Regions from separate parts of the Homo sapiens genome. Here all the other regions are linked to region 4. The links come from fine-mapping of genetic effects on gene expression. A gene starts in region 4. Each other region holds a variant in brackets. All regions are shown on one strand. Distances are between the middles of the regions. Region 1 holds the start of SPSB2 (splA/ryanodine receptor domain and SOCS box containing 2). Region 2 overlaps ATN1 (atrophin 1). Region 3 overlaps USP5 (ubiquitin specific peptidase 5). Region 4 holds the start of ENO2 (enolase 2).

Region 1 (8,000 bases), 38 kb before region 4:
TAGAGCCCAGGGAATCCGGTATACAGCCTGGGTACCTGGCTCTGCCCATCCTTCTTTTGGACCTGTACATCAAACCCAGTACCTAACGCTTTGCACCTCTTGCTCAGGGGTTGATATCTCCTGAATTCTCTCATCCCTGCAGTTCCTCCCTCCATTCTGAAGGTTCACCATTTACTGGCCAAGAGAACTTGAGAAAGTTGCTTTCTCAAGCCTGTTTCACCTCTATTGCTGTTGGGTTAAATTAAATAACAGCTGTGAAGACCCCTAGCCTTTCCCAGCACTGAACAGAGGTTGAGGCAGGCTGGATGAAGGTCCATCCCCTCTGCTCTTGTCAGAAGAGTTTCCATCCCAAACCACTGCCACCAGGGACAGAAAGTTCTCCCCACGTCTGCCCCAGGCCTCACCTCTCCTTTCGCCCAGGTAGCGGATGCGGACCTGGCACTGGCCCCAGACAGCGCTTACTGCCGGATAGAGGGTCCTGCCCTTCAGTCCGCGGAATGCTGGCCCCAGGTAGGTGCCCCCAATAGCGTAGCCCAGAGTTCCCTCCTCCATGTCCAGAACCACCAGCAGTCTCTCTGGCACCTCCAGCTGCTCACCCTGAGTTCCCGCTGGATACTGGGGGGCTCCGGGCCCCTTGCTCTGATGGTACAGCTTCCCCCGCCCGATGTCCCAGCCCCACGACTCGCTGTTGCTGCCCAGCAGCGCCGCGTAGTGGTCAGTCTGCAGCGGGGCGAGGGCCGTGGCCACGCCCACCACGGCATGCGTGCCCCTCTGCTCTAGGGGCCAGCTGATCTCCCAGGCGTGCAGGCCCCTTGAATAGCCCCTCTTACCCCGGGCCCCATCAGTGCTCTGGGCCACGGGCCGCCGCTCAAAGTACAACCCTCCTTCCTTGACCTCGATGTTCTCTGAACAGTCTTTGGGGTTCCAACCGTGGCGCCGCTGGGCCCCCAGGTCAGGAGGGGGTGCAGACAGCAGCTCTTCCAAGCCCTCGGGACAGGAGAGGTCAGGGTACAGGGCCTGTGGCGTGGGGGTGCTGCTGCTGCCCCCTGCCAGAGCTGTCTGGCCCATGGAGGTGAGGAGCTAGAGGACTCCCCGAAAGAGGCTTGCTGGGGCGTCTTTCTCTTCTGAAAGTTGAGCTCCAGTTTGGATTGACCTGGAAGGGAGCTGGGAGAAAAGGGGCGTGAAGAGCAGAATCCTGGCGGGGGCTCGTCACCCAGGTACCCCATCCTTTCACCCAAGTTTGCCAACGGGCCCGCTCCTCCCTCCTCGCTGCCCCAAAGCTCCTGGGCCCTTCATCTGCCCTCGCCCCATCTGATCCAGGTCGCCAGAGACTCTCGCGAGTTCGCCCCATTTGGGCCTCAGCATGGACCATCCCCCTTACTCGCCCGGAGCCCTCGCCGCTGCCCCCGAACCTCGGTTGACTTCCCAGCCCTGGAGGTCGCCGGGCCTCTGAAGGAGCCGGGCGGAAAGAAGCCGAGGCGCGCAGGGCGCAGACCGCCGGCCGCTTCCGCCCCCAGCTCCTCCCTTGGGCCGAGCCCGTCCCGCGGCCCCGCCCCTCCAGGGCCCTCTGGGGCTTAACCCTCTCATCGCCGCCCACGGCCGTGCAGCTCCGAGGCCACGCCCCTGTGGGGCCCCGCCCCCTCCTGGGCAGTTACCGCTCTATACCGGCAGCAGCCGCGGAGAGCATGCCCCGCCCCCGTGGAGCCCACCCCGGGCGGTTAACCTCGGGTCTCAGTCCCGGGCTGTGACCCTCCCCGAGGCCCCGCCCCCACGGCGAAGGCCCGGGGCAGTTAACCCTTCTCTTGCTGCGGCAGAGTCCGCACCCGGGCAGGCCCATCTCAGAATTAACGCTTTGATGGCATCACCGCGTCGGGAATCCCTGGGGATGGTGTTCTCCACCGTCAAGACCTTTGAGCCGCCTGAGCGACTAACTCCTGCGCCCCTGAGGGTAAGGAGCATGGGGTCAAGGAGGGGCTTCATTGTGCCGAATCCCATTTCTACTTCCCTGTGATTCTGGGTCACTGTTTCTGGGCTGGTCCCTTTCTGCCCCGGGTTGTGAGTCAGCCTGTGCCACCTCTGAGGCTGTGAAATCTGCTTCAGGCTCTAGGCTGTACGCATCATAGTTCTCCCTGCTGGTCCAGTCTTCATACTGGATGCCAATCCATTACTGAGCCGTTGATCTCATTTGGTAGAGTGTCCTGATTAAGACTTCGAGTTTGAGTGAAGCTATGCCACTAGTTAACTGCGCGATCTTGGGGAAGTTGCCCGATTTCTCTTTTTTTTTTTTTTGAGACAGGGTCTTGCTGTCACCAAGGCTAGAGTGCAGTGGCGCCATCACAGCCCACTGCAGCCTTGACCTCCTGGGCTCAAGTGATCCTCCTACCTCAGCCTCCCAAGTAGCTGGGACTACAGGCATGTGCTACCACACCCAGCTAATTTTTAAAAAAATATTTTTATTTTTATTTTTATTTTTTTCGAGACAGAGTCTTGCTCTTGTTGCCCAGGCTGGAGTGCAGCGGCACGATCTCGGCTCTCTGTAACCTCCATCTCCCAGGTTCAGGGGATTCTCCTGCCTCAGCCTCCTGAGTAGCTGGGATTACAGGCACCTGCCACCACGCCTAGCTATTTTTTGTATTTTTAGTAGACACAGGGTTTTGCCATGTTGGCCAGGCTGGTCTAGAACTCCTGACCTTGTGATCTGCCTGCCTTAGCCTCCCAAAGTGCTGAGATTACAGGTGTGAGCCACCACGTCCGGCCAAAAAAAAATTTTTTTTAGAGACAGGGTCTCCCAAAGTGCTGGGATTTCAGGCATGAGCCACTACGCCCAGCCCCAGATTTCTGTAGTTTTCTGTTATGTAAAATAGGAGCAATGATGGTAGTTACCTCACAGGGTTGTTGTGCAGTTGAAATAATCCAGGTAAAGCATGTAGCACAGAGCTGGGTACATAGTAGTCACTCACCAAGCATAGCTGTCAATGTGCTTAATGAGTGCCGACACTATAAGGAGGCAATATAATATAATGGCAAACATGCCAGCTGTGGGACCAGACTCCCCGGGCATGAATACCTGAAGGCCAGTGTGTGTATGACCTTGGGCAAATTACTGAACCTCCCTGTGCCTGTTTCTTCCTCTGTAAGACAGAGATCACATTAGTATCTATTGCATGGGGTTGGTAGTGAGAATCCAATGAGGTTATAGATGTAACACATTTGGAAGAGTTTCTGGTTCGCATTTAATGATTTGTGCTAAGCACTGGAGATTAAGCAGTGAATCCTTAAGGAGGTTACAAAGACTTTTATAAAATAATGTATCATGTAGTAATAGTAAATAAAATTATGGAGATATAAAGAAAGTACTATAGGAGTAAAAAGAATAGGACTCCTATCCGGGGTTCAAGCAGTTAGGAAAGGAGCATCTCCAAAAGAGGTTCACACCTGGGCTGAATCTTTTCATGTCCTAGAAGAGGTTCACACCTTCACACTGGGCTGAATCTTTCTCTTTTTTTTTTTGAGACGGAGTCTAAGCTCTGATGCCTAGGCTGGAGTGCAGTGGCGTGATCTCAGCTCACCTCTGCCTCCTGGGGTCAAGTGATTCTCCTGCCTCAGCCTCCCAAGTAGCTGGGACTACAAGCGTGCACCACCATGCCTGGCTAATTTTTGTATTTTTAGTAGAGACAGGGTTTCACTATGTTGCCCAGGCTGGCCTCGAACTCCTGACCTCGTGATCTGCCCGCCTCGGCCTCCCAAAGTGCTGGGGTTACCGGCATGAGCCACCGCGCCCAGCCTGGGCTGAATCTAAAAGGATGACCAGGAATTGGCCTGAGACGAGCCACTTCTCTGCAGTATGGAGGTTGGGTTACGGTTGCTGCATGTAGAAGATATTCCAGACAGAAGAGTCCGCATGAA[A/T]AAAAGCAAGAAGCAGCAGGTGGGTTTGGGGAAGTACGATATCTTCAAGGTTGCTACAGCCAGAAAGGAAGCATGAGAAGGGCCAGATAAGTAGACAGCAAGTCACAGAGGCCTTCTAGGCTGAGTTAAGGAATGCAAATGTTTTCCCATAGGACAGGCCAGTGATGGGGAGCCACTGTAGGATAGAAGAAGAGAGGAACATGGTCAGATAGGCATTTGATTTATTTATATATTTTGAGCCAGGGTCTCACTTTGTCACCCAGGCTGGAGTGGAGTAGCGTGATCACGACTCATGGCAGCCACAACCTCCTGAGCTCCGCTGATCCTCCTACCTCAGCCTCCTGAGTAGCTGGGACTACAGGTGCATACCGCCATGCCGAGCTAATTTATTTTTATTTTTTTAATTTACAAATTATTATTTCTTAATTTTTAAAATAGAGACAGAGTCTCAGTCTGTTGCCCAGGCTGGTCTCGAACTCCTGAGTCAAGCGATCCTCCTGCCTCAGCATCCCAAAGTACTGGGATTACAGGCGTGAGCCACTGTGCCTGGCCAGATCTGCATTTTAGAAAAACCACCCTGGCAGCAACATAGAGGAGCTTCAAGGGAAATAGAACTGGAAGTTGGCTGGGCGCGATGGCTCACACCTGTAATCCCAGCACTTTGGAAGGCTGAGATGGGCGAATCACCTGAGGTTTGGAGTTCGAGACCAGCCTGGCCAACATGGAGAAACCCTGTCTCTACTAAAAATACAAAATTAGCCGGGCATGGTGGAGCATGCCTGTAATCCCAGCTACTCAGGAGGTTGAGGCAGGAGAATTGCTTGAACCTGGGAGGTGGAGGTTGCGGTGAGCCGAGATCACGCCATTGCACTCCAGCCTGGGCAACAAGAGTGAAACTCTGTCTCAAAAAAAAAAAAAAAAAAGGACTGGAAGCAAAGACACCATTTCCAGCAGCCCAGGTGACAAGTGTCAACAGCCTGAAATAGGACAGTAGAAATAAGGATGAAAATAATTCAAGAAACACTGATGAAACGGCAAGATTTGGTGACTGATTAGATATGGAGTTGAGGCTGGGCACAGTGGCTCACGCCTGTAATCCCAGCACTTTGGGAGGCCGAGGCAGGCGGATCACCTGAGGTTGGGAGTTTGAGACCAGCCTGGCCAACATGGTGAAACCCTGTCTCTACTAAAAATACAAAAATTAGCTGTGTGTGGTGGTGGGCACCTGTAATCCCAGCTACTTCGGAGGGTGAAGCAGGAGAATTGCTTGAACCAGGGAGGTGGAGGCTGCAGTGAGCCGAGATGGCGCTACCGCACTCCAGCCTGGGCGACAGAGCAAGACTCCATCTCAAAAAAAAAAAAAAAAAAAAAAGAGAAAGGGAAGTTTCTAGCCTGGAAAAATTGATTGGAAGGTGGTGCCACCAATCAAGATGGAGATGACAGAAAGAGGAGTAATTGAGGGCAGGGGCAGGAGGGTGGGAGAGGGAGATGGTGAGTTCAGTTTAGGATATGTTTTTGAGGTGTCTGAGCCACAAGCAAATGGAACCATCCAGAACACACAAGAAAATGGCAGGTCTGGAGGCAGAATGAGAGGCCTGGGCTGGAGACAGGGATTTGGGAGGTGTGTCAGTCTTTAGTCAGGAGTTGAACTATGAGAATGAGTGAGTGAAATATGGGCGATGGGGACAAAGAGAGTGTGGAGCAACAGAAGGGTCAAGGAGAATAGAACAAGGTAGAAAATTCAGTTTTGATTACTTACAAGATTGTTTTGGTCAGAGGTCACTGGCAACCTTGGTGAGAGACAGCACATGTGGGGACTGGTAGGTGGAACTCCAGGCTGAAGGGGCTGGACTGTCACAAGCTTTACATTTTGAAGGAATAGAAAATGAGGAGAAGTAAATTACAATTATGTCACATAGTTAAAGTTACCCTTGGAAATCCCTTAGTAGGCTGGGTGCAGTGGCTCATTCCTGTAATCCCACCACTTTGAGAGGCTGAAGCAGGAGCTTGAGCCCAGGAGTTTGAGACCAGCCTGGAAGACTAGTGAGACCCCATCTCTACCAAATAATAATAATAAAATAGGCCGGACGCGGTGGCTGACGCCTGTAATCCCAGCACTTTGGGAGGCCGAGGCGTGTGGATCACCTGAGGTCAGGAGTTCAAGACCAGCCTGGCCAACATGGTGAAATCCCGTCTCTACTAAATATACAAAAAAAAAAAAATTAGCCAGGCGTGGTGGTGTGCACCTGTAATCCCTCAGCAGGAGAATTGTTTGAACCCAGGAGGCGGAGGTTGCAGTGAGTCAGGATGGCGCCACTGCACTCCAACATGGGCGACAGAGTGATACTCCATCTCAGAAAACAAAACAAAAAAATAAAATAGGCTGGGCATGGTGGCTCATGCCTGTAATCTCAGCACTTTGGGAGGCCGAGGCAGGTGGATCACTTGAGGTCAGGAGTTCGAGACCAGCCTGGCCAACATGGTGAAACCCCGTCTCTACTAAAAATACAAAAATTAGCTGGGCGTGGTGGCATGTGCCTATAATCCCAGCTACGCAGGAGGCTGAGGAAGGAGAATCGTGCCTGTAATCCCAGCTACTCAGGAGGCTGAGGCAGAAGAACCCGCAAGGCAGAGGTTGCAGTGAGCCAAGATCCTGCCACTGCACTCCAGCCTGGCGACAGAGCAAGACTCCGTCTCAAAAAATAAAGTAAAATAAAATAAAAATAATTGAGGACCACAAGAACTAGGAAAAAAAGAAAAAAGAAAAAAGAAAGGCCGAGGCAGGCAGATCACCTGAGGTCGGGAGTTTGAGGCCAGCCTGACCAACATGGAGAAACCTCGTCTCTACTAAAAATACAAAAATCAGCTAGGCATGGTGGCACATGCCTGTAATCCCAGCTACTCGGGAGGCTGAGGCAGGAGAATCGCTTGAACCTGGGAGGCAGAGGTTGTGGTGAGCTGAGATTGAGCCATTGCACTCCAGCCTGGACAACAAGAGCGAAACTCCATCTCAAAAAAAAAAAAAAAAAGAAAAAGAAAATCCCTCAGTTACTGCATCTGTTAGGTGAGCATATATTCGTTTGTGTAAAAATCACTATGTGGCTGTATATATATATATATATATATATATATATATATATATATATATATATATATATATAAAATGATGTACAAAATATTTTATAATGTTTTAAAGAGGAAGAAGAAAGCAGCACACTAAGAAGTAACTCAGGAATGGAAAACCAAACATCATATGTTCTCATAAGTGGGAGCTAAGCCATGAGAATGCAGAGGCATAAGAATGACACAATGGACCTTGGGTACTCAGGGGGAAAGGGTGGGAAGAGGTGGAGGGATAAAAGACTATAAATAGCGTTCAGTGTATACTGCTTGGGTGATGGGTGCACCAAAATCTCACAAATCACCACGAAAGAACTTACTCATATAACCAAACACCACCTGTTCCCCAATAACCTATGAAAATAAAATAATAATAAAAAGAAGAAGAAAGCATACTAAAATAAAGATATGAACCTGAAACTTGTCATCCACCCAACCTGGATATGCTTGCCAGTATGTGACATCAATAATAACATCATGACTGTAAGACCAGGCACAGTGGCTCACACCTGTAATCCCAGCACTTTGGGAGGCCAAGGTGGGCCGATTTGAGATCAGAAGTTGAAGACCAGCCTGGGCAGCATGATGAAACCCCGCCTCTACAAAAAATACAAAAAATTAGCCAGGCTTTGGTGGCTTGCGCCTGCCATCCCAGCTACTCAAGAGGCTGAGGCAAGAGAATCCCTTGAGTCTAGAATTGGAGGTTGCGGTGAGCCAAGATCAGGCCACTGCACTCCAGCCTGGGTGACAGAGCGAGACCCCGTCTCAAAAAATAAATAACATCATGACTGTGGGTGGCAGCCTATGATGAATAGTAGTGAAGGACCCATGTGATAACCAAGGCCTGGGGACAGAGAACAGTGCCTGCCCCATGGCTAGCTCTAGCTCAGCTTGAGAATTTAATCACGCCTGTGCTGCTGATGCTGCTGCTGCTGCTGCTACTGGTTGTTTAAAACATGGTTGTTGGCCGGGCA
Region 2 (8,000 bases), 21 kb after region 4:
GGAGATGGACACCCTTCTCTAGGAGGGCTGGCAAAAATACACCAATCACAAATAGTCATCTTTGTTGTGCTTTTTGTTTAAGATTGTTTTCCTCTTTTGCTATGGTGGGTGTTGTTCTTCGGATTTTTTTTTTTTTTTGGTTGATAGTATTTTAAAACCAGTCTACATAACAACTAAAAAATGTGGGAAAATAGCTGTAGTTGAAAAAAAAAAAAAAAAAAAAAAGGCCGGGCATGGTGGCTCACGCCTGTAATCCCAACACTTTAGGAGGCTGAGGCAGGTGGATCATCTGAGGTCAGGAGTTCGAGACCAGCCTGGTCAACATGGTGAAACTCCGTCTCTACTAAAAATACAAAAATTAGCCAGGTGTGGTGGTGTGCGCTTGTAATCCCAGCTACTTGGGAGGCTGAGGCAGGAGAATCGCTTGAACCTGGGAGGCGGAGGTGGCAGTGAGCTGAGATCATGCCATAGCACCTCCAGCCTGGGGAACAAGAGCAAAGATCCATCTCAAAAAAAAAAAAAAGGAAAAAAAAAGAAAACTAGTTGGCCGGGCACAGTGGCTCACGCCTGTAATCCCAGCACTTGGGAAGGCCGAGGCAGGCAGATCACCTGAGGTCAGTAGTTCGAGACCACCCTGACTAACATGGTGAAACCCTGTCTCTACTAAAAATACAAAAAATTAGCCGGGTGTGGTGGTGCATGCCTGTAATCCCAGCTATTCAGGAGGCTGAGGCAGGAGAATCGCTTGAACCTGGGAGGCAGAGGTTGCAGTGAGTGAGATCACGCCACTGCACTCCAGCCTGGGCAACAAGAGTGAAACTCTGTCTCAAAAAAAAAAAAAAAAAAAAAAAAAAAGACAAGTCTACTGGGCAGAGCATCAGTTGAAAGTTCAGAAGATAGGCTCTGTCCCAGCAATTTTGTGATTCTAAGTAAATTGTGAAGTTTCCTGGAAAGGTTAGACTCACCCCTTACTGCCTGCATCAGTATGGTTCCGTGGAGGTGAGTGAGAATTACTGTGTTTCTTGGGAAAAAATACACTACAGAATATGGACATGCCGTTTACCTAGCAGGCCTCCAACTCAGAATAGAATACATGGGTAAGCTTAGTCTGTTCCCACTGGAGCTAGCAGCACTTAATTCAGGAAGAAAGACCTACTGATGTTAGTGGGTTTAAAGGTCAATCACAAGAAGAGCGCACACACATCAGTGGAAAGGAAGAAAACAGTAAGAAAATACCATTTTTGCTCTCAAAAGATCTTACAATCAGTAATTTGGAGGGACTTGACACTTAGCAAGAAATACAAACAAGTGCAAATGAATACAGCTGGCTATAGGGATTTGGATAAAGATAGATACCTGCTGATAGACAGATACGGATGGATTGGCTGTGAGAAACTGTGTAACCCAGTCTACACCAAGTAGGAGGATAGGCTTAAAAACTGGTACATCTGTGTTGTTTGCTCACGGATATTTTGAGTCTTTAATCATTCATGTGAAAACCCTGACTTTTCCTCTAGCCTTAGGGAGCTCAAGTACTAGAGAATGGGTCCTTTATGGGGCTCTCAAAAATGAAGTTCTACAATTTGGGGCTACCTAGGTTTAGTCTTGGGATTGGTAGGGCTGTGTTCCTTTGTATTATAGAATGGGACATTCTTCTTCTACCTACTCTGATGTGAGAAAAGATTCTTTTCATATCTCTGTGACTGATCTAGGCCTTCTGAGAATTCTCCCCAGCAACTTCTGAGGAGAATACAGCAAAGTATAGAAGAAAGAGCATGGGCTTTGAAGTCACCGACATGGGTTTGATTCTGGCTCTGTCACTGGTTCCTCACTGTGTGAGGTTGGGCTAGTCACAATCACAATCTTTGAGCCTCAGTTCCCTCACCTATATAATGAGGGTAATAATGCTTACCATTCAGGGTTGGTTGTAAATATTAAATGAAATCATGTATGTGAAGGGCTTGATATAAAGAAGGTATTCAATAAATTCATACTTCAATGTCATTTCTTTTTTCTTTTTTTTTTTTTGAGACAGAGTCTTACTCTGTCACCCAGGCTGGAGTGCAGTGGCATGATCTCGGCTCACTGCAACCTCTGCCTCCCAGGTTCAAGTGATTTGCTTGCCTCAGCCTCCTGAGTAGCTGGGATTACAGGCACGTGCCACCACGCCTGGCTGGGTTTCACCATGTTGGCTAGGCTGGTCTTGAACTCCTGACCTTGTGGTCCATCCACCTAGGCCTCCCAAAGTGCTGGAATTATAGACATGAGCCACCATGCCCCGCTCCATTTCTTTATGTTCCTTTGTAAGGCTCCGTGGAATGTGTGTGTTCACAAATATCCTTTAGGGATCATGAAGGGTAAACTGTGTGATCTCCTGGATTGGGGCTTGTAGGTACATCCGAATTTTCTGCCCTCTACAGAGATGAAAGAGATTATACTTCGAGCAGAATCTGCCTCCCTTTTAGATAGCTAAGGTAGCCCATGGGGCATGCCAGCAATGTCTTGTGGTATCTGTACCTCTTGGCCCAAAGGCTTAGGGTTGGGCCGCTTGCTCAGTTCTCTGACAAGCAGAATAGTATTCCTTTGTGACTCTGTTCTCCAAGTTGGAGACTCTGATGGTTTCCTTCTAACAGGTTTCATTGAAAACAGATCCTGCAAAAGTTCCAGGTGCCCACACTGGAAACTTGGAGATCCTGCTTCCCAGACCACAGCTGTGGGGAACTTGGGGTGGAGCAGAGAAGTTTCTGTATTCAGCTGCCCAGGCAGAGGAGAATGGGGTCTCCACAGCCTGAAGAATGAAGACACGACAGAATAAAGACTCGGTGAGTTAAAATGAGAGACATGAAAGATGAGGGGCGGGGCAGGCAAGCTAGGAGGAAGGGTCTAGAGAAGAAGAACAAATAATGTGCACCATAAAGTTAGGTGCAATGTAAAGAACAGTGTTACCTACCTCCTTCCTCCTCCTGTAGATGTCAATGAGGAGTGGACGGAAGAAAGAGGCCCCTGGGCCCCGGGAAGAACTGAGATCGAGGGGCCGGGCCTCCCCTGGAGGGGTCAGCACGTCCAGCAGTGATGGCAAAGCTGAGAAGTCCAGGCAGACAGCCAAGGTATTCTGTCCTCAGGTCCTCCCACAGGATGCCCAAGGCACTGGGGCTGAGGGTGTGTGTGTGTTGTGGGGGAACTTCCTGTTTGGCAGAGGGTAACGGTGGAGCTCGGGAGGTAGGGAAAAGACAGGAATTTTCTCTTTCTCTCTAACAGAAGGCCCGAGTAGAGGAAGCCTCCACCCCAAAGGTCAACAAGCAGGGTCGGAGTGAGGAGATCTCAGAGAGTGAAAGTGAGGAGACCAATGCACCAAAAAAGACCAAAACTGAGGTGGGAAACCCTTGTCGCCATCCTGACCCATCTTGTGACCATTCTTTTCTCAGACTTGCTTATGCTCACTATTCTTAGCTGGATCTCTCCTGGGACATAAGAGAAAGGCCAGATCATAGTGCTTATGAGAGCAGTTCTGTCTATAATATGCCAGAGAGATTCTTAGAGCTTTGACAGACCACCAGATGACCAGGCAGGGCCAAAGGGGACCAGAAGAGTTGGGGGATTCTAGTCTCTGGGTGAGAAGTCTTAGTCGGAGGAACAAATAAATCTTAAGGAAAATGCAGAAGTGGTCTTTCTTTTTTATTGTTTTTTTTTGTTTGTTTGTTTTTGAGACAGTTTCGCTCTGTCACCCAGGCTGGAGTACAGTGGCACAATCTCAGCTCATTGCAACCTCCGCCTCCTGGGTTCAAACAATTGTGCCTCAGCCTCCCGAGTGGCTGGGATTATAGGCATGAGCCACCATGCCCGGCTAATTTTTGTATTTTTGGTAGAGACAGTGTTTCACCATGTTGGCCAGGCTGGTTTGGAACTCCTGGCATCAAGTGATCCGCCCGCTTCAGCTTCCCAAA[G/C]TGCTGGGATTACAGGTGTAAGCCTCTGTGCCCGGCCAGAAGTGGTATAAAAACCAAGGGCTTGGGGGATGGAGGATGGTTAAAGTGGTGGTTATGAGATGGTGGAAGACAGGGAGTTGGAGTCAGCTGTGGGTAGAGACAAGGTGCTTGAGATGGATCCTTGAGGAAGGAATAGGGTTTTACAGGCGGGAAACAAGACTGGCTGCTAGGGAGCAGCCAAGAATGTGAGGAAAGTGAGAAATCCCCAGATGGTAAGAGGTGGGCTTGAGCAAGAGTACTCACCACATCACAGTACAACAGTGTGCTGTGAGGGGAAATGATTTTATGCAAGAGAGCCCCAAATCTCAGGGAAGCAGGAAAGGAAAAGAGAAAAAATGAGTCTTCCCTTTTCTACAGCAGGAACTCCCTCGGCCACAGTCTCCCTCCGATCTGGATAGCTTGGACGGGCGGAGCCTTAATGATGATGGCAGCAGCGACCCTAGGGATATCGACCAGGACAACCGAAGCACGTCCCCCAGTATCTACAGCCCTGGAAGTGTGGAGAATGACTCTGACTCATCTTCTGGCCTGTCCCAGGGCCCAGCCCGCCCCTACCACCCACCTCCACTCTTTCCTCCTTCCCCTCAACCGCCAGACAGCACCCCTCGACAGCCAGAGGCTAGCTTTGAACCCCATCCTTCTGTGACACCCACTGGATATCATGCTCCCATGGAGCCCCCCACATCTCGAATGTTCCAGGCTCCTCCTGGGGCCCCTCCCCCTCACCCACAGCTCTATCCTGGGGGCACTGGTGGAGTTTTGTCTGGACCCCCAATGGGTCCCAAGGGGGGAGGGGCTGCCTCATCAGTGGGGGGCCCTAATGGGGGTAAGCAGCACCCCCCACCCACTACTCCCATTTCAGTATCAAGCTCTGGGGCTAGTGGTGCTCCCCCAACAAAGCCGCCTACCACTCCAGTGGGTGGTGGGAACCTACCTTCTGCTCCACCACCAGCCAACTTCCCCCATGTGACACCGAACCTGCCTCCCCCACCTGCCCTGAGACCCCTCAACAATGCATCAGCCTCTCCCCCTGGCCTGGGGGCCCAACCACTACCTGGTCATCTGCCCTCTCCCCACGCCATGGGACAGGGTATGGGTGGACTTCCTCCTGGCCCAGAGAAGGGCCCAACTCTGGCTCCTTCACCCCACTCTCTGCCTCCTGCTTCCTCTTCTGCTCCAGCGCCCCCCATGAGGTTTCCTTATTCATCCTCTAGTAGTAGCTCTGCAGCAGCCTCCTCTTCCAGTTCTTCCTCCTCTTCCTCTGCCTCCCCCTTCCCAGCTTCCCAGGCATTGCCCAGCTACCCCCACTCTTTCCCTCCCCCAACAAGCCTCTCTGTCTCCAATCAGCCCCCCAAGTATACTCAGCCTTCTCTCCCATCCCAGGCTGTGTGGAGCCAGGGTCCCCCACCACCTCCTCCCTATGGCCGCCTCTTAGCCAACAGCAATGCCCATCCAGGCCCCTTCCCTCCCTCTACTGGGGCCCAGTCCACCGCCCACCCACCAGTCTCAACACATCACCATCACCACCAGCAACAGCAACAGCAGCAGCAGCAGCAGCAGCAGCAGCAGCAGCAGCAGCAGCAGCATCACGGAAACTCTGGGCCCCCTCCTCCTGGAGCATTTCCCCACCCACTGGAGGGCGGTAGCTCCCACCACGCACACCCTTACGCCATGTCTCCCTCCCTGGGGTCTCTGAGGCCCTACCCACCAGGGCCAGCACACCTGCCCCCACCTCACAGCCAGGTGTCCTACAGCCAAGCAGGCCCCAATGGCCCTCCAGTCTCTTCCTCTTCCAACTCTTCCTCTTCCACTTCTCAAGGGTCCTACCCATGTTCACACCCCTCCCCTTCCCAGGGCCCTCAAGGGGCGCCCTACCCTTTCCCACCGGTGCCTACGGTCACCACCTCTTCGGCTACCCTTTCCACGGTCATTGCCACCGTGGCTTCCTCGCCAGCAGGCTACAAAACGGCCTCCCCACCTGGGCCCCCACCGTACGGAAAGAGAGCCCCGTCCCCGGGGGCCTACAAGACAGCCACCCCACCCGGATACAAACCCGGGTCGCCTCCCTCCTTCCGAACGGGGACCCCACCGGGCTATCGAGGAACCTCGCCACCTGCAGGCCCAGGGACCTTCAAGCCGGGCTCGCCCACCGTGGGACCTGGGCCCCTGCCACCTGCGGGGCCCTCAGGCCTGCCATCGCTGCCACCACCACCTGCGGCCCCTGCCTCAGGGCCGCCCCTGAGCGCCACGCAGATCAAACAGGAGCCGGCTGAGGAGTATGAGACCCCCGAGAGCCCGGTGCCCCCAGCCCGCAGCCCCTCGCCCCCTCCCAAGGTGGTAGATGTACCCAGCCATGCCAGTCAGTCTGCCAGGTGAGCGGCCAGGTGGGGCGGAGGTGGGCCTGGAAAGGGGACGACGACAAGGCGGCGACGAGAGAGGGAGTAGCAGGGAGGGGCCTTGCGCTGGTGTAGTGTTTTAGAAAAGCACGCCCCTCTCCTCCGTCCAGGCCTAGTGGCCAGTGAGGCCCGCAGCAGCTCACAGCCTGCAGGGGTGGTTTTGAGGCGGGGGCTACAAGCACTCGCCGGGGCCGCGGCGCTGCGGGCTCCATCGGGCAGCTCGCACCGCCTGAGCGCCCGCTGCTTCCACGCCCGGCAGGTTCAACAAACACCTGGATCGCGGCTTCAACTCGTGCGCGCGCAGCGACCTGTACTTCGTGCCACTGGAGGGCTCCAAGCTGGCCAAGAAGCGGGCCGACCTGGTGGAGAAGGTGCGGCGCGAGGCCGAGCAGCGCGCGCGCGAAGAAAAGGAGCGCGAGCGCGAGCGGGAACGCGAGAAAGAGCGCGAGCGCGAGAAGGAGCGCGAGCTTGAACGCAGCGTGGTGAGTGCGTCACTGCCTGCGCCACCGCCTTCTTTCCCTCTTTCCTTCCTTCCCTCTGCGCTGCGCTGCGCTACGCTACGCTGCGGGGCTGTGGCTGGGTGGGCGGGCGAGTCACGTCGCCACCTGTCGGAGGGGAGGTACCACTGCAGCCCAGGAAATGGAGCCCAAAAGGTTTTCAGCGAGAGCCATCTGCATTCCTGGGTTGGGAAAAGGCATGCTCAGATGGGACTACCTGTGGATCCCAAGAAGGGCAAATATTCGGGAGCGGGGGCCGCAGTTAAGTTCCAGGTGGGCAGAGTTTCAATGAGTTGAGGCATTTTGGCATTCGGCTGTCGAAACAAATGGGCAGCTTAAAACCAGCCACCTCTTTTCATAACTGCCGCTTTGACTCCACTTTTCCCTGTATCCCACAGAAGTTGGCTCAGGAGGGCCGTGCTCCGGTGGAATGCCCATCTCTGGGCCCAGTGCCCCATCGCCCTCCATTTGAACCGGGCAGTGCGGTGGCTACAGTGCCCCCCTACCTGGGTCCTGACACTCCAGCCTTGCGCACTCTCAGTGAATATGCCCGGCCTCATGTCATGTCTCCTGGCAATCGCAACCATCCATTCTACGTGCCCCTGGGGGCAGTGGACCCGGGGCTCCTGGGTTACAATGTCCCGGCCCTGTACAGCAGTGATCCAGCTGCCCGGGAGAGGGAACGGGAAGCCCGTGAACGAGACCTCCGTGACCGCCTCAAGCCTGGCTTTGAGGTGAAGCCTAGTGAGCTGGAACCCCTACATGGGGTCCCTGGGCCGGGCTTGGATCCCTTTCCCCGACATGGGGGCCTGGCTCTGCAGCCTGGCCCACCTGGCCTGCACCCTTTCCCCTTTCATCCGAGCCTGGGGCCCCTGGAGCGAGAACGTCTAGCGCTGGCAGCTGGGCCAGCCCTGCGGCCTGACATGTCCTATGCTGAGCGGCTGGCAGCTGAGAGGCAGCACGCAGAAAGGGTGGCGGCCCTGGGCAATGACCCACTGGCCCGGCTGCAGATGCTCAATGTGACTCCCCATCACCACCAGCACTCCCACATCCACTCGCACCTGCACCTGCACCAGCAAGATGCTATCCATGCAGGTGAGACCCCTCCTTCCTTGCCCTGGCCC
Region 3 (8,000 bases), 54 kb before region 4:
TTTTTCACCTACTTTTGTGTCATTAAAGCTTGGCACAGATGTTTTTTAGCTTTATTCCGTTCTGAGATGAAGCACTACCTCCTTCCGTCCCTCCTCCCGACTTGTTCCTTCGCTCGTGCTCATTGCTGATCCAGCCCTTCCTGCTTCTTTACAGAAAGAGGAGGACCCTGCTACAGGCACTGGAGACCCACCCCGGAAGAAGCCCACGCGGCTGGCTATTGGTGAGCACCGCTGCAGTCCTATTCTTCTCCCTGAGCTGGTCTTTCTGGCTCTCAGCAGCACCAGGAAAGCCCCAAAGAGTGGGCCTGATTGATGGCCCTAGAACTCTGGATGGGGCAAGTGAGGTGCTGGCTCGGAGGAGGGACATTGACCTGTTGTCATTGCTCTACTCTCCCTCTTCTTCCCTATCCTTCCAGGTGTTGAAGGCGGATTTGACCTTAGCGAGGAGAAGTTTGAATTAGACGAGGATGTGAAGATTGTCATTTTGCCAGATTACCTGGAGATTGCCCGGGATGGACTGGGGGGACTGCCTGACATTGTCAGAGATCGGGTATGACTGCCCCCTATGCTACCCAAGATTCTAGAGCAAGATGGGCCAGGGTAGTGGTGTCTTAGGCAAGCACTGACAAAGCTGAAGGCCAAGGGGAAGAGGGGCATGTGGGGCAGGGGGTTGGGTATTGCCTCTGACCCTCTGCTTCCCCCAGGTGACCAGTGCAGTGGAGGCCCTACTGTCGGCCGACTCAGCCTCCCGCAAGCAGGAGGTGCAGGCATGGGATGGGGAAGTACGGCAGGTGTCTAAGCATGCCTTCAGCCTCAAGCAGTTGGACAACCCTGCTCGAATCCCTCCCTGGTGAGGCCTGGCCCCTCTGCCTCGGGCACCACCCCCAGAGCAAGGACAAGGAGCCCACTTTTCTGGGGGATCTGGTGGGAGAGAGGGTAGGGAGCAGGACAGGAAGGGAAGCTTGGAAATGAACACGACATGGGGATGGCCAGAGGAGAAGAGAGAGAGACCTTGGATTGGCGGGGGGCCTGCAGAGCCCTCTCTCTCTGCCACTCCCTCAAATCCCCGACCCACATTTCTGCTGATTCTCTTCTCTGTGGGTTAGTGGCTGGAAGTGCTCCAAGTGTGACATGAGAGAGAACCTGTGGCTCAACCTGACTGATGGCTCCATCCTCTGTGGGCGACGCTACTTCGATGGCAGTGGGGGCAACAACCACGCTGTGGAGCACTACCGAGAGACAGGCTACCCGTTAGCTGTCAAGCTGGGCACCATCACCCCTGATGGAGCTGGTACAGCCTCCCCTCCTCCAGCCACTCTCATGCTTAAATATATTTCATTTGTTAGTAATTTCGTGTGACATGTATAATACATGAATGCATTATCTTGATAAGAAAGGAAAGTAGTCAGGTGCGGTGGCTCATGTTTGCAATCCCAACACTTTGGGAGGCCAAGGCAGGAGAATTGCTTGAGCCTAGGAGTTCGAGACCAGCCTGGGCAACATAGTGAGACCTCATCTCTCCAAAAAAGAAAAAAAAAGAAAAATTGGCTGGGTGTGGTAGCTCCTGCCTGTAGTCTCACCTACTCAGGAGGCTGAGGCAGGAGGATTGTTTGAGCACCCGGGAGGTTGAGGCTGCAGTGAGCTATGATTGCACCACTGGACTCCAGCCTGGGCTACAGAGACCCTGTCTCAAAAAAGGAAAATACTGCAGATGAGACTAAATTTTTGATTACTCCCCACTCAAATCCTCATCCCTTTCCTACCAAGCCTGTCTTACCTTATCCTATACAGGTAGAATCAGAATCACAAGTAATTCCAACCCTCACCCGGTTTCATCTGTCTTCCCTGACCGTCAGCCCCAGAAGGGCCATGACCGCACTCATATTACTCATATTCAAGGGAACCAAGAGGGTGGACCTTACTGGCTCTCCTTCTGTCCCCTCAAGTCCCTTCTGTGCAAGGGATGGGATGGTGGCCTGGCTAGTCCTGAGCCACTTCCCCTGATTCTCTTCCTGCCTCCTGCTCTAGACGTGTACTCATATGATGAGGATGACATGGTCCTGGACCCCAGCCTGGCTGAGCACCTGTCCCACTTCGGCATCGACATGCTGAAGATGCAGAAGGTGAGACCCCCTTCAACTTCAGATTCTTCTACTTCCTGCCCCTGTGAGGGCCCTTCCTCTTTGCCTGAGGCTGAGGTAGGGTTTTGGAGAAATCTTCTAGTTAACCCCATCCCCAAGATACACAGGCTTCTTTTAAATATCTAAAATCATTTATTCAGTGAATAGTACTGAGTACCTACTATGTGCTAGAGGCTGTGTGAATAAGACAGATGTGGTTTTTGCTTACAAGAGTTCTACTCTAGAAGAAAAGGCAGACATTAGTCACATTCCCAGATAAATAAGTGAATAGTTGCAAACTGGTGGGCACTGTGAAAGAGAGGCGGAGGGTACTACAGTAATTGACAGCAGGGTGGCCTGGCCTAGTTTAGGGATCAGGGACATTTCCCTGAGGAAGCGATGCTTAACTGACAATGTGAAGGAGGTTAGGGGTAACTTAAGGATGGGAAAAACATTTCAGGTAGAAGGAAATTTTATTCCTCATTCAAGCAGAGGCCCTGATGACTAACGGGCCTCTGGGACAATTATGTGTGGCCTTCCAGAACTTGAACTGGACGATACTCAACATACCTCCCATGTTTGAGCCTGTAATTCCACAAATTCTAGGCCACAGTTGAGTATCATCCTAGACTCAGTGAGAGATCGAGGTAAAAACTACAGGGTTGAGTTTCTCACTCAGTCTGAAGTGCCCCTTCTCACACAGACAGACAAGACGATGACTGAGTTGGAGATAGACATGAACCAGCGGATTGGTGAATGGGAGCTGATCCAGGAGTCAGGTGTGCCACTCAAGCCCCTGTTTGGGCCTGGCTACACAGGCATCCGGAACCTGGGTAACAGCTGCTACCTCAACTCTGTGGTCCAGGTGCTCTTCAGCATCCCTGACTTCCAGAGGAAGTGAGTAGTGCCCTCTCCTTCCCCAGGCCCCCTCCTGGTCAGCACCCTCTGGGCATACTCCTCCTTCAGCTTCCCTCAGCACCTCTGTGTTTGATTCTAGTCTTAGAGTAGTTCCTATCGGCTGGGTGTGTTGGCCCACACCCGTAATCCCAGTACTTCGGGAGGCCAAGATGGGAGAATTGCTTGAGCCCAGGAGGTTGAGACCAGCCTGGGCAACATAGCGAGACCCTGTCTTCTCTTAAAAAAAAAAAAGAATAATTCCTGTCACACTCTGGCTGACATGCTGTGAGGGGAGCAAGTTAGGGAGCTGCACCACCAGCACCCCAACACACAAACCCCACTGATAGTGCAGAGTGCCAAGTCCCAGGGCTCTGTGGCCTTCTGACAGACTCAAGGGTTAGCAGGTGGTCTTTATTTTAGGGCAGTGACATCAGATGAGCACCTAACATGGACATGTAGCACTTGGGGAGGAGGGGGGCTTGGCACACTAAGAATAAAGGCAGGTTCTCAGCAGAAATGAGTTTACTTTCGAATTTGGGGAACAATTAGAATGTGAATGCTCAGAACATGTCAACAGGTTCTGTCCAATAGAACGTGAACTGCACTTATCCTAATCCCAGGCTACCTTCCCCCTCCCCGGCTCCTCTGCCGCCGAGCGTGCTTGCACATTGGACATAGCTGAGAAGGGGAGAACAGGCAGGTTGCTGGAGAGAAGCGACTCCAAGGTTCACCCACAGCAACTCCCCACTCTTGAGGGGAGCCCGTTCACAGAGTTAGTAAATGTTTGCTTCCTTCCCTTTTCCTCGGCGCTCAGGCCAGAGCCCCTCCAACTGTCCTTCCCTTGACTTTTAGGTATGTGGATAAGCTGGAGAAGATCTTCCAGAATGCCCCGACGGACCCTACCCAGGATTTCAGCACCCAGGTGTATGTAACCAGGTCCTATGTAGGAAAGCTGTTGACAGTCATGGCCGTATACCTTCCTCCTCCCTGACCGCCTGGGGGGCACAGCACTTTAACCCCTGGCCTTTTTTTGTTTTGTTTTGTTTTGTTTTTTGAGACGGAGTCTTGTTCTGTTGCCAGGCTGGAGTGCAGTGGCGCGATCTCGGCTCACTACAACCTCTGCCTCCTGGGTTCAAGTGATTCTCCTGCCTCAGTCTCCTGAGTAGCTAGGACTACAGGCACATGCCACCACGCCCAGCTAAATTTTTTTTGTATTTTTAGTAGAGACGGGGTTTCATCATGTTGGCCAGGATGGTCTCGATCTCCTGACCTCGTGGTCTGCCCACCTCGGCCTCCCAAAGTGCTGGGATTACAGGCGTGAGCCACCGTGCACGGCCACCACTGGCCTATTAGGAGCATTCGGGTGACTGTCTTCTGGACGTGTTGTCTGTCTTGAGCTGGGTTCCTGTAGAATCTAAGGTTTTTCACGTTGTTGAGAGTTAGCTAGGGAGAGCCACGAGC[A/G]GGGGGTTGAGCTGGGGACACACAGGGTCGTTAGTTGACTGAAGTGAAATGTTTTCTTGGATATTAATGCAGGGCCAAGCTGGGCCATGGCCTTCTCTCCGGGGAGTATTCCAAGCCAGTACCGGAGTCGGGCGATGGGGAGCGGGTGCCAGAACAGAAGGTGCGTCTAGGACCCTGTCCCTTTCAGGCCCTGGGATTGTGGGGAAGCTGAGGTCTGGGAGATGTCTAAAGAAGGCCCCTGGATGGCCACTGAGCCCCAGCTGAGTCCCTGCCCTGACTCTTCCCAGGAAGTTCAAGATGGCATTGCCCCTCGGATGTTCAAGGCCCTCATCGGCAAGGGCCACCCTGAATTCTCCACCAACCGGCAGCAGGATGCCCAGGAGTTCTTCCTTCACCTTATCAACATGGTGGAGGTAAGGGCTGGCAAGATGGCACACCCCCATCTTCCTGCAATTTACTCGCTCTCCTTCCTGCCCATTTCTCCCTCTATCAGCCCCAACCCAGTCCCATCCCTGAACCCCAACAGTCTGTGTCCCTGTGAACAGTGCTTGCACCTGAGGAGGACAGTGAAGGTGATGATCCCTACCCTTGATGGGCTTGAAGCCCAATTCAGATTATGCCCAAAGACAATGATAAGAGAATACTTGCTGCTTATAAAGAAAAATACAAGCGTGTTCTAACACAGTCCCTCAGTGCAGGGATGGGGCCAGAAATGGGGAGGGGTTGGTGAATTAGGGAAGGTTTCTGCTCTGCTCTTGTGTCCCTGAGTTCCGAGTGGTAGTCTGCCTTCTCTCCCTGACTCTCCCATGAACCTTTCAGGCCCCATTCTGTTCCCTGGCTGCCCAGACCTCCCTACCCTGCCTCTTTCCCATAGAGGAATTGCCGGAGCTCTGAAAATCCTAATGAAGTGTTCCGCTTCTTGGTGGAGGAAAAGATCAAGTGCCTGGCCACAGAGAAGGTGAAGTACACCCAGCGAGTTGACTACATCATGCAGCTGCCTGTGCCCATGGATGCAGCCCTTAACAAAGGTAGGCTGCTCCATCAGCAAGGCCGTGGCACGGTGGGAGGCTAAGGTCTAGGAGGAATGCTTGGGCACCTCATGGGAGCACAGCCCAGGGAATGCCCTGCTTCACCAGCCAAGGTTCCAGTCTGGGCCACCAGGAGTAGGTAGATTAACCTCGTCCAGTGGACACTCAGCTTGTTAGCAGAGCTGCATGGAAACAGGCGAGATATATTGGACATGTGTCAGGGGTGCTTTGGAAGGGTAGAGGAACTGAAATACGGACACAGAGCCAGTAGGGAGAGGCTAAGGAGGCAAAGAAGCAGCACCCTCCGAAGGATCCACCAACCCATTCTGTCACCAGAGGAGCTTCTGGAGTACGAGGAGAAGAAGCGGCAAGCCGAAGAGGAGAAGATGGCACTGCCAGAACTGGTTCGGGCCCAGGTGCCCTTCAGCTCTTGCCTGGAGGCCTACGGGGCCCCTGAGCAGGTCGATGACTTCTGGAGCACGGCCCTGCAGGCCAAGTCAGTAGCTGTCAAGTAAGTCCTCTGGTCGGGGCCTGAGGCTGTGGGTCTATGGCAGAGCTATCCCAGAGGATACTTCTGTCTCTTCCCTGTTCTTTCATCCCTTTGTGGTTGGAACCTCAGGGTTGAATCAGTTGGGCTGGTAATCTGGCCCTGATGGAACCAAGGGGCCCTGGTAGGGGGGACACGGGTACTGACTCTATCTGTCACCTTGTCCTGCCCCAACCACTCCCTCTTCTGTGGCACAGGGTCTCTTTGTAGTGTAGCCTCTCTTCATTGCCCCTCAGTCATGGCTGAGCACAGGCACTTAGGATCAGCTGTGGGCAGAATTTGGATTTCCAGCAAATAGCCACACTTTGAGCCTAGCCATTGGCACCTGGCATGGGTGTGAGACCTGAAAAAGGGCTTTGGTCTCGGGGAGTCAGCTACCCAGCCCTTTGCTGCTCCTGCCAGTGAAACAGCTCTTCCTCTCTGTGTGGGTTTTTTTTTTTTTTCTATGTGTGGGTCTTGCTATGTTTTTTTCCCTACGTGTGGGTCTTGCTATGTTGCCCAGGTTGGTCTCTTAACTCCTGGGCTCAAGCAGTCGTCCTGCCTTGGCCTCCCAAAGTGCTGGAATTACAGATATGAGCCACCATGCCTGGGCTTTTTTCTTTTTCTTTTTTTTGTTGACAGCCTTCCTTCTGGCCTCTACTGCTCCTCGTTGGCCGAGGACAGGCATCAGACACCTGCCCAGGGGAAGAGAAGAATATGGAGGATCTTCTGGGTTATTGGGACTTCTACCCATGAGGGGCTGAACCCCAGGTGGGAGTTTCAGGAGAGGAAAACCCTGGGGATTGTCTGGGTACCAGCACAGTCTCTCTTCCCTAGGACCACACGATTTGCCTCATTCCCTGACTACCTGGTCATCCAGATCAAGAAGTTCACCTTCGGCTTAGACTGGGTGCCCAAGAAACTGGGTATGGCTGCTGGAATGAGGGAGGTTACACAGAAAATGCTAGAAAAAGAAGGGGCTTTAACACATATAAACTAGTGTTTCTCAAAGTTTCCTCTGAAAGAGGAAAAAAAATCACCTTCAATGTTTCAAAATTTATCTAGTTTGAAAGCACTAACTAAAAATATTAAAAGACTTCTTTGATTGTTATAGGTATGATTTACAACCAAAAGTGATTTTTGTAGTTTTTTAAAATAATTGGTAAAATGTTTTCATTTTGATAATCTTGAAACAATTAATTCTCGTGAGTCTTACAGGTCCCTGACTGTCATTTGAGAACTCGTGATGTACCTTCATTTTCTAGATAAGGAAGTTGAGACTCACAGGAATATAAAATCATTCTGTCTCACAAGTTCTAGGCCCCCTGCCCTGTCCATAGATTATTTATGGTAGATCTAGGACCAGCATCCTGGCCTCCCAACTCCCAGGCTTAGTATTATTTGTCTTATACTGGGACCCCTAAGATGGGTGCCGTGCTTTTAGCAGCTCCTCTTTACAGAGCAGTTCTGACATAGGGGGCAGGGGATTGAGGTTCCCGAATCACTTTCCAGGTAGGCCTCCGGGAGCTGCTGAGGTGACCCTTTTCCCACAGATGTGTCCATCGAGATGCCAGAGGAGCTCGACATCTCCCAGTTGAGGGGCACAGGGCTGCAGCCCGGAGAGGAGGAGCTGCCAGACATTGCCCCACCCCTGGTCACTCCGGATGAGCCCAAAGGTAGCCTTGGTTTCTATGGCAACGAAGACGAAGACTCCTTCTGCTCCCCTCACTTCTCCTCTCCGACATGTTAGTGACTCTTCTTCCTGCCTGTCTCTCTCCCGTGCTGATGGGGGCCTCTCTGCCTTGCATCCCCTGCCCCTGTCCTTTGTGTTTCTCCTGTCCTCCCTTTCAAATTTCCTCTGCCCTCTTTGATTGACATGGGGCCTCCCCAGCGCACTCCTAGCCACCTTCTGGGTGTGGATGGCAGCAGTGCCAGCTAGTGGCCTCTCTGCCCTTGTTACCTCCCTGG
Region 4 (8,000 bases):
AATGAAATCATTGCAGTACCTCAACCTGAGGTATGCACCCTCTCCAAGCCCCACCTTGCCCCTACCCCTGACCAGGTGCAGCTTTTGAGTCTGTGTTCTTCCCTGGCCCAATCCCCCAGTCCTAGCCCACAGCTGGATTCTCAAGGAAAGCCCGGCTTTCCTTCCTTTCTTCTGCACTGAGTTGCAACACTAAATCCCTTATAGCTTGTGACCCCTGAATTTTTATTCATTCAATCCACAATTATTGAGAATGTGCTATGTGCCAGGCCTTGTGCTGTGTTTTGGGGACATTTAAAGCAATCAGAGGCTGGGCATGGTGGTTCATGCCTGTACTCCCAGCACTTTAGGAGGAAGGATCACTTGAGGCCAGGAGTTCAGGACCAGCCTGGGCAACCTAGTGAGACCATGTTTCTACAGAAGTGAAAATAATGGCCCGGCATGGTGGCTCACACCTGTAGTTCTAGCACTTTGGGAAGCCGAAGTGGGCAGATCGTTGGAGCCTAGGAGTTCAAGACCAGTCTGGGCAACATGGCAAAATCCCATCTCTACCAAAAATACAAAAATTAGCCAGGCATGGTGACAGGCACCTGTAATCCCAGCTACTCAGGAGACTTAGGCGGGAGGATCGCTGGAGCCTCGAGGTGGAGTTTGCAGTGAGCTGAGATAAAGCCGCTGCACTCCAGCCTGGGTGACAGAGCCAGACCCTGCCTCAAAAACAAAACAAAAATAAAATATTAAATAAAAATTAAAATATTAAATTAAAAATAAAAATTAACTGAGCCTGGTGGTGCACACCTGTGGTTTCAGCTACTCAGGAGGCTGAGGTTGGAGGATCACTTGAGCCCAGGAGTTCAAGGTTGCAGTGAGCCATGATTGTGCCACTGCACTCCAGCCTGGGTGACAGAGTGAGCTGTCTCTAAAAGAAAGAAAGGAATCAGAGGTGATTCCTGTTCCTAAGGGGCTCACAGTCTGGCTCCAACTCTTTTTTCCTCACCCTATCCTATATAAGTTTCCACTGCCCTTCTCCATTTCCTCGGTCCCAATTCACCTTCCCATTTCCTGCCTCTCTTCTCCTGAGCCCCACCTGTAAGGGATGACCTTTTTACTGATTAAAAAAACACAAGATGTGCTCAGATTTGAGGAGAGAAGGACATTTGTAAGAAAATCTTTTGGTAGAAAGGCACTGAAGATCAGCAACTCTTGTCGGATGGAGGACTTTATGTGTGTTTATTTCAGCAAACATGTAAGGAAACTGCCTCTTTCCTTAGTCAACAAGACCAGATTCTTGAGCTGGTAATGGAAAGAGCATCTCCAAGTAGGGAGAGGTGGTTGCATCTGGAAGCCCCAACTCTCATCCTGACCCCCTGGGCATTCTCTTATTCATGAACTCTGCCACACGGATCTGGTGGGGTGTGTATCTGTGCCATCTTCCTGTTAATGATCTAGACAGGCATGATGGACCCTTCCTGAGTGGCTATTAAATGGGGATGTTTTGAGAGTAAGTCGGGTGTGTGTGTGGAGGGGGGTGAGGGTGTCTCAATGATTGGCAGGTGCCTCTGGGGCCAGAGATGCTAAGCATCCAACAATGTATGGCAGAGTCCAGTACAAAGTTCCTGTAGCCCTCCTGGTGAGAAACACTGCATGAGGCTCAGCACGACCATGAGATCAGGCTGAAACACTTAAATAGATTTCATAAAAGCTTAAAGCCAGAACATGAAAATAAATAAAATTCCAGGCATGGTGGCTCACGCCTGTAATCCCAGCACTTTGGGGGGGCCAAGGCAAGAGGACTGCTTGAGGCCAGGCGTTCAAGACAAACCTGGGCAACATAGTGAGACCCAGTCTCTACAAAAAATTTAAACATTAGCCAGGTGTGGTGGCACATGCCTGGAGGTACTTAGGAAGCTAAGGTGAGAGGATCACTTGAGCCCAGGAATTCAAGGCTGCAGTGAGCTATGATCATGCCACTGCACCCCCAACCGGGGTGACATAGTGAGACCCTGTCTCAATAAAAATAAAATAAAAACAGAGTATCATATAATGAGGCACATTAGGAGATGAAGTTTATTCTTCAGGTTGGGAGGCTCCAACCCATCCATAGCCTTAGGTTCTCTTTGTGGAGAGCACGAACCGAGCATCCACCACCCTAAACTCCAGCTTAGATCCCAGTTCCTTGTCCACTGACCTAGGTCCTACAGGGTGGAGTGCAGTGGCTCGATCTCGGCTCACTGTAATCTCAAACTCCTGGGGTCAAGCAATCCCTCCTCCTCAGCTAAGTAGCAAGGACTACAGGTGTATGCCATCACGCCCAGCTAATTTTTTTATTTTTAGCTTTTGTACAGATGGGGTCTCGCTATGTTGCCCAGGCTGGGTCCTACCTTCTACCCTCCATTTAGGTGTGATCACAGAAAATGTCTCTCCCTGTGAGGAAAATTTGCCCTCTCCTCCCCAGCTACAAGACAGGGTTGTGGCCTAGCTTTGCTGCACCAAAAGAACACATGAATGTATTACAGAGTAGAATATGGCACTTAGGGATTCCTTGAAGGGCAGAAGCAGGACCAGAGCGGGGTCACACAGCACCTCTGCAGTAAATCTGGCAAGGCTTGGCAGGCCAGTCCTCACAGTGTTTCTAGGGACACTGGAACCCCGAGAGTCCCCCAGAGGCCCCATTCCTAGCAACTGGCAACCAAAGCCCATTATTCCTGCATGAACCCCTCCTGACCACACTGGCAGGGGCAACATGGTGGCCAACCTGGGGGAGCTGGCCAAGCTTCGAGACCTGCCCAAGCTGCGAGCGTTGGTGCTGCTTGATAACCCATGCACGGACGAAACCAGCTACCGCCAGGAGGCCCTGGTGCAGATGCCATACCTTGAACGCCTGGACAAGGAATTCTATGAGGAGGAGGAACGGGCTGAGGCTGATGTGATTCGACAGAGGCTGAAGGAAGAAAAGGAGCAGGAGCCTGAGCCCCAGCGTGACCTGGAACCCGAACAGTCATTGATCTAGCAGCAGTTCTAGCCTCTAAAGATAGTAAGGAAGCCTGCAGGGAGGCAGTGGGAGGAGGCCAAGGGCTGGGCAGGTAGGGGAAGAGGCAAGAGGGGAAGCTGCTGCAGAAGGAGGTGGGAGAGGAAAGCATCAGACAAGCAGGACCCTTAAAGAGAGGAGGGTTAGGAGTCAGGGAGAGGAAAAGGGACCCAAGGGGCCTGGGACCAGCTGAGAAAGACTTAGGAGGCCAGAAGAGTAAGTGAAAAGAATTGGGGTGGCAGGCAGAGGAGTTGGTGGGGGGTGGGGCAGCCATACCTGACACAGAGTGAAGTCGGCTAGGAAAGGACAGGTGTGGGTGCATGGTAGGGGCTGCAGGGGAAAGTTGGTGGTGTATGCAGCTGGACCTAGGAGAGAAGCAGGAGAGGAAGATCCAGCACAAAAAATCTGAAGCTAAAAACAGGACACAGAGATGGGGGAAGAAAAGAGGGCAGAGTGAGGCAAAAAGAGACTGAAGAGATGAGGGTGGCCGCCAGGCACTTTAGATAGGGGAGAGGCTTTATTTACCTCTGTTTGTTTTTTTTTTTTTTTTTTTTTTTTTTTTGCGAGGTAGTCTTGCTTAGTCTCCAGGCTGGAGTGCAGTGGCACAATCTCAGCTCACTGCAACTTCCACCTCCTGGGTTCAAGCAATTCTCCTGCCTCAGCCTCCCGAGTAGCTGGGACTACAGGCGCATGCAACCGCGCCTGGCTAATTTTTGTATTTTTAGTAGAAACGGGGTTTCACCACGTTAGCCAGGATGGTCTGGATCTCCTGACCTCGTGATCTGCCCGCCTCCGCCTTCCAAAGTGCTGGGATTACAGGGGTGAGCCACAGCGCCTGGTCCCTATTTACTTCTGTCTTCTACCTCCAGGAGATCAAAGACGCTGGCCTTCAGACCTGATCAGACTCCCAGGGGCAGCCACCACATGTATGACAGAGAACAGAGGATGCCTGTTTTTGCCCCAAAGCTGGAAATTCATCACAACCTGAGGCCCAGGATCTGCTCTGTGCCGGTCCTCTGGGCAGTGTGGGGTGCAGAATGGGGTGCCTAGGCCTGAGCGTTGCCTGGAGCCTAGGCCGGGGGCCGCCCTCGGGCAGGCGTGGGTGAGAGCCAAGACCGCGTGGGCCGCGGGGTGCTGGTAGGAGTGGTTGGAGAGACTTGCGAAGGCGGCTGGGGTGTTCGGATTTCCAATAAAGAAACAGAGTGATGCTCCTGTGTCTGACCGGGTTTGTGAGACATTGAGGCTGTCTTGGGCTTCACTGGCAGTGTGGGCCTTCGTACCCGGGCTACAGGGGTGCGGCTCTGCCTGTTACTGTCGAGTGGGTCGGGCCGTGGGTATGAGCGCTTGTGTGCGCTGGGGCCAGGTCGTGGGTGCCCCCACCCTTCCCCCATCCTCCTCCCTTCCCCACTCCACCCTCGTCGGTCCCCCACCCGCGCTCGTACGTGCGCCTCCGCCGGCAGCTCCTGACTCATCGGGGGCTCCGGGTCACATGCGCCCGCGCGGCCCTATAGGCGCCTCCTCCGCCCGCCGCCCGGGAGCCGCAGCCGCCGCCGCCACTGCCACTCCCGCTCTCTCAGCGCCGCCGTCGCCACCGCCACCGCCACCGCCACTACCACCGTCTGAGTCTGCAGTCCCGAGGTGAAGCCCCCGCCAGGCCCAGAGCCCCTGTGGCCCCCTCCCTTCGCCGCGGCGCCCCTGCCTCCTTTACCCGGTGCCGCTGCGCACCTCTCCGCATCTCTGGCCCGGTGCAGCTGCGCACCTGCTCCGCCGCCCGCGCCCAGGGCGCCTTCCCTCCCTGGCCTTCCCCGCCCGCTGCCTTCGCTTTCTGGCCCTCTGCGCGCCTATCTCTAACTGCGCCTCTCCACCCTTGCCTGCCTCTCTCCCGGTGCTCGCCCTCATCTACGGTTCTATTTGTTTCTAAGTTGGGAGCCTCTCCGGGCGGTGCATTTTTATCCTAGAGCGTCCCTTTTGGTTTGCATTTGGGGAAATGTCTTCTCTCACCGTTCCTCACCTCCCCCAGACTTCCCTTGGACTCCCCTCTCTCCTGCTCTTCCCCACGGCGCCCCTCTCCGTTCGCGCTTCCTCCCCTCTGCTGCACGGGGGAGAGATGGAAGAAGTGGGGATCTGTCGAGGCGCAGAGGGGAGGACAGGCCCAGCTCGCCTCCACTCCCCACCGGCTCTTATCCTCTTCACTTCCCGCTGCAACCCCCAGGGACTGCAGGGCCTTTCTCAGGACCCTCTTCCCCGACACCTGTATTGCATGCGCCTTTCGCGGGAAGAGGAGGGATACACGTTTGGGAGAGAGTGGGACCTTGGGGAAGGGGCAGTGTTCAGGCAGCTGGGGTGTTAAGTTGGGGAGGTATGGGGGCTCTGGAAGAGAGGCCCAGGCAGCCCATCCTCTTCTTGGCTCCCAGGAGAAATGCAAGCCTGGCAGCCATTCCGCTCTGAGGAGATCTGGGGGAACCCCACCGGCTGGCCAAGCTGCAAAGAGGCGCGGGAACCACTGTCGTGCCCCTCCCCTCCTCACTGCAGTGTTCTCCCATCTCATCATTTGATCTTACCCCGCCCCCCACTGCAGTGACCTCCCCTTCCTCACTGCATTGACCTTCTCCTCTTCCCAGGGGGGAGGGGGAATCCCTTCTACAGCCCTAGACTGCAGCCAGCGCCTCCCTACCCACCCCCCACCCACTGCAGTAACCTCTTTCCCATCCCTCCCAGCCTCCCGCCCCGCCCATTGATCTCAGGCTCCACCCCTCTAAGCCTCTTATCTTTCTCCTTCCTTCCCTTCCACCCGAGGAGATCCCAGCCATCATGTCCATAGAGAAGATCTGGGCCCGGGAGATCCTGGACTCCCGCGGGAACCCCACAGTGGAGGTGGATCTCTATACTGCCAAAGGTAATGGGTGTGGCATGGGCCTTCCTACAGCCCTAGCTTTTCCACGGCCAGGCTGGGTTCGGCCAGGGGTTCGGAGGCCTTTTTTGATACCCAGGGGTATGGGGTGCTGGGCCAGGCTCACAAGCCTGGGTTGTGGCGGTTGGATCCTCCTTGTCCGGGGAGCCAGGGTAGGTGGGTCTGTGTTCGAGTTTAGCGTGTGAGGCATGTCCTGCCTCCGTGTGTCTGCCTGTGCACTTGCATGTGTGCAGACGTGTGCTGCAAGCAATTTTCTTTCTGCGGGCTCCCACTTGTGCATGTGGGGCCTCAGATGGGTGGATGAGGAGGCCACTTCTTGTGCATCTGCCTCAGTGTGTGTGTGGGGTGGGGGTGGGGGGATGTTAGGGAGCAGTGTGGGGAGAGAGCTAGATGTGGTAGGCAGGCAGTTTAGAGCCAGAAGGCTGAAGGACTCCCTGGCCCCTGTGTCCTCTTCACTCCCTCTCATTCCATGTTCCTCCTTTAGGTCTTTTCCGGGCTGCAGTGCCCAGTGGAGCCTCTACGGGCATCTATGAGGCCCTGGAGCTGAGGGATGGAGACAAACAGCGTTACTTAGGCAAAGGTGAGGTCCCTTCTCTTTTCCAGACTCTCCCCCACCTCAGCCTTATGCCCCTACCTCACACCAGTCCCCAGTCCTCCTCTAGCATGGCTTCCCCTCCTCCCATTGATCCCTTCCGGCCCCTCCTGGCCCGACCCAGTCCAGCCTCTTCCTTTCCCCAGGTGTCCTGAAGGCAGTGGACCACATCAACTCCACCATCGCGCCAGCCCTCATCAGCTCAGTGAGGCCTGCTCTTTGCTGGGGATAGCAGGGCCAGAGTTCTGGAAGGAATCCCGGAGCAGGGCAGGAGGAAGGGAAGAAAGAAGGCCCACTCTTAGGAATCATGGTTACAAGGGGGAAGGGTGGGGAACAGCTTCCTTAATGCACCCTGCTCCCATGGGAGTTCAGGTCCCCTAATCCAGGTAGGCCCCTGTCACAGGGACCTGGTTGGACCCTGGCCAAATGTGAGCTTGGGTGTGAATGAGGGGACCCTCTGCCTTAGGGCTCAGCCTCCAGCCTGGCCCTGGGTGATGGAGGCTCTGCCCTCAGGGTCTCTCTGTGGTGGAGCAAGAGAAACTGGACAACCTGATGCTGGAGTTGGATGGGACTGAGAACAAATGTGAGCCGGGGCCGGGAGAAAGTGGGGAAGCGTCAGGGTGGGGAGGCGTGGAGCAGATAGAGAGCTGAAGGGCCAGTGCTGTAGTGGCTTCCTCAGGAATGACTGTCAGGGGCATTCTCCTCTCAAAGCCAGAGCAAGGGGAGATGAGTTTAGCTGCAGAGGGAAGGACCGACAGTAGGCAGAAGGAAGACCTTCTTTGCAGCATACAGAGGAGGGGGATGGCCTGAGAGAGTCTGTGGTCTCAGGGATATTTAGAAAGAGGTGTGGCTCTCTGCCGTTTCCAATCTCCTCCTCCCCACCCATTCCTCTCCCTGCTGTTTTCAAGAGAGCATGGATGAGGTGTTGCTGGGGCAGGGGTGGGGAGGGAGGAGGGGGTCTCCTTTACTGGCTCCTTTTGGAGACTACAGATGGAGGCAGGAGCTAGAAAGGAGAAGGGGACATTGTGCTCAGCACCTTCCTCTATAATCTCCTAGCCAAGTTTGGGGCCAATGCCATCCTGGGTGTGTCTCTGGCCGTGTGTAAGGCAGGGGCAGCTGAGCGGGAACTGCCCCTGTATCGCCACATTGCTCAGCTGGCCGGGAACTCAGACCTCATCCTGCCTGTGCCGGTGAGCAATAAGCCAGCCTGCGGCTCTCCCAGGGGCGGGTGGGGGAGGGAGCATGCAACTCATGAGGAATGATGGGAGGAAAGTGAATTGAGGGAGGTAAAGAGGAAGGATGGGGACGTGAGACTTAGTCCGGAAAGCTGGGGGAAGTTTGGGATCTTGGGTTAACACTCCTGGGGCGGGCAGGGAGGGGCTCTTTGACCCTTCTGTCTTTCTGTGGCTCCCCAGGCCTTCAACGTGATCAATGGTGGCTCTCATGCTGGCAACAAGCTGGCCATGCAGGAG

Evidence for each region. PIP is the estimated chance that this variant, and not a neighbour inherited with it, causes the effect.
Region 1: its variant is fine-mapped to the expression of ENO2 in whole blood (INTERVAL, PIP above 0.99).
Region 2: its variant is fine-mapped to the expression of ENO2 in whole blood (TOPMed, PIP above 0.99).
Region 3: its variant is fine-mapped to the expression of ENO2 in whole blood (TOPMed, PIP above 0.99).

Annotation. Positions count from the first base shown.
Region 1 is chr12:6,871,834-6,879,833 of GRCh38, forward strand. SPSB2 (splA/ryanodine receptor domain and SOCS box containing 2) reads right to left here and starts at 1,470. Exons shown (of 3, transcript NM_032641.4): 1 at 1,413-1,470; 2 at 405-1,164. The coding sequence starts at 1,068. It overlaps LOC105369632 (a long non-coding RNA gene), which reads right to left. Exons shown (of 4, transcript NR_135083.1): 3 at 5,666-5,767; 4 at 3,931-4,081. RefSeq lists silencers at 130-249, 1,430-1,879 and an enhancer at 800-1,039. The variant A/T (reference allele first, on the strand shown) is at 3,907.
Region 2 is chr12:6,931,207-6,939,206 of GRCh38, forward strand. It overlaps ATN1 (atrophin 1), which reads left to right. Exons shown (of 10, transcript NM_001940.4): 2 at 2,634-2,822; 3 at 2,970-3,107; 4 at 3,259-3,372; 5 at 4,341-6,355; 6 at 6,639-6,861; 7 at 7,275-7,971. The coding sequence starts at 2,796. Among named protein-coding and RNA genes, the nearest start is that of ATN1, 7.2 kb to the left of the region's middle. RefSeq lists a silencer at 6,323-6,392. The variant G/C (reference allele first, on the strand shown) is at 3,945.
Region 3 is chr12:6,855,601-6,863,600 of GRCh38, forward strand. It overlaps USP5 (ubiquitin specific peptidase 5), which reads left to right. Exons shown (of 20, transcript NM_001098536.2): 3 at 155-221; 4 at 417-550; 5 at 705-850; 6 at 1,107-1,291; 7 at 2,029-2,123; 8 at 2,824-3,017; 9 at 3,870-3,941; 10 at 4,551-4,638; 11 at 4,766-4,891; 12 at 5,353-5,506; 13 at 5,843-6,017; 14 at 6,870-6,958; 15 at 7,586-7,777. Among named protein-coding and RNA genes, the nearest start is that of USP5, 7.5 kb to the left of the region's middle. The variant A/G (reference allele first, on the strand shown) is at 4,479.
Region 4 is chr12:6,909,997-6,917,996 of GRCh38, forward strand. ENO2 (enolase 2) reads left to right here and starts at 4,584. Exons shown (of 12, transcript NM_001975.3): 1 at 4,584-4,663; 2 at 5,825-5,921; 3 at 6,421-6,516; 4 at 6,675-6,733; 5 at 7,042-7,111; 6 at 7,585-7,718; 7 at 7,944-8,000. The coding sequence starts at 5,837. It overlaps LRRC23 (leucine rich repeat containing 23), which reads left to right. Exons shown (of 8, transcript NM_001135217.2): 6 at 1-30; 7 at 2,734-3,031; 8 at 3,895-4,233. The coding sequence ends at 3,007. RefSeq lists enhancers at 3,987-4,056, 4,087-4,256, 4,935-5,576, 5,577-6,216 and silencers at 4,367-4,856, 4,388-4,578.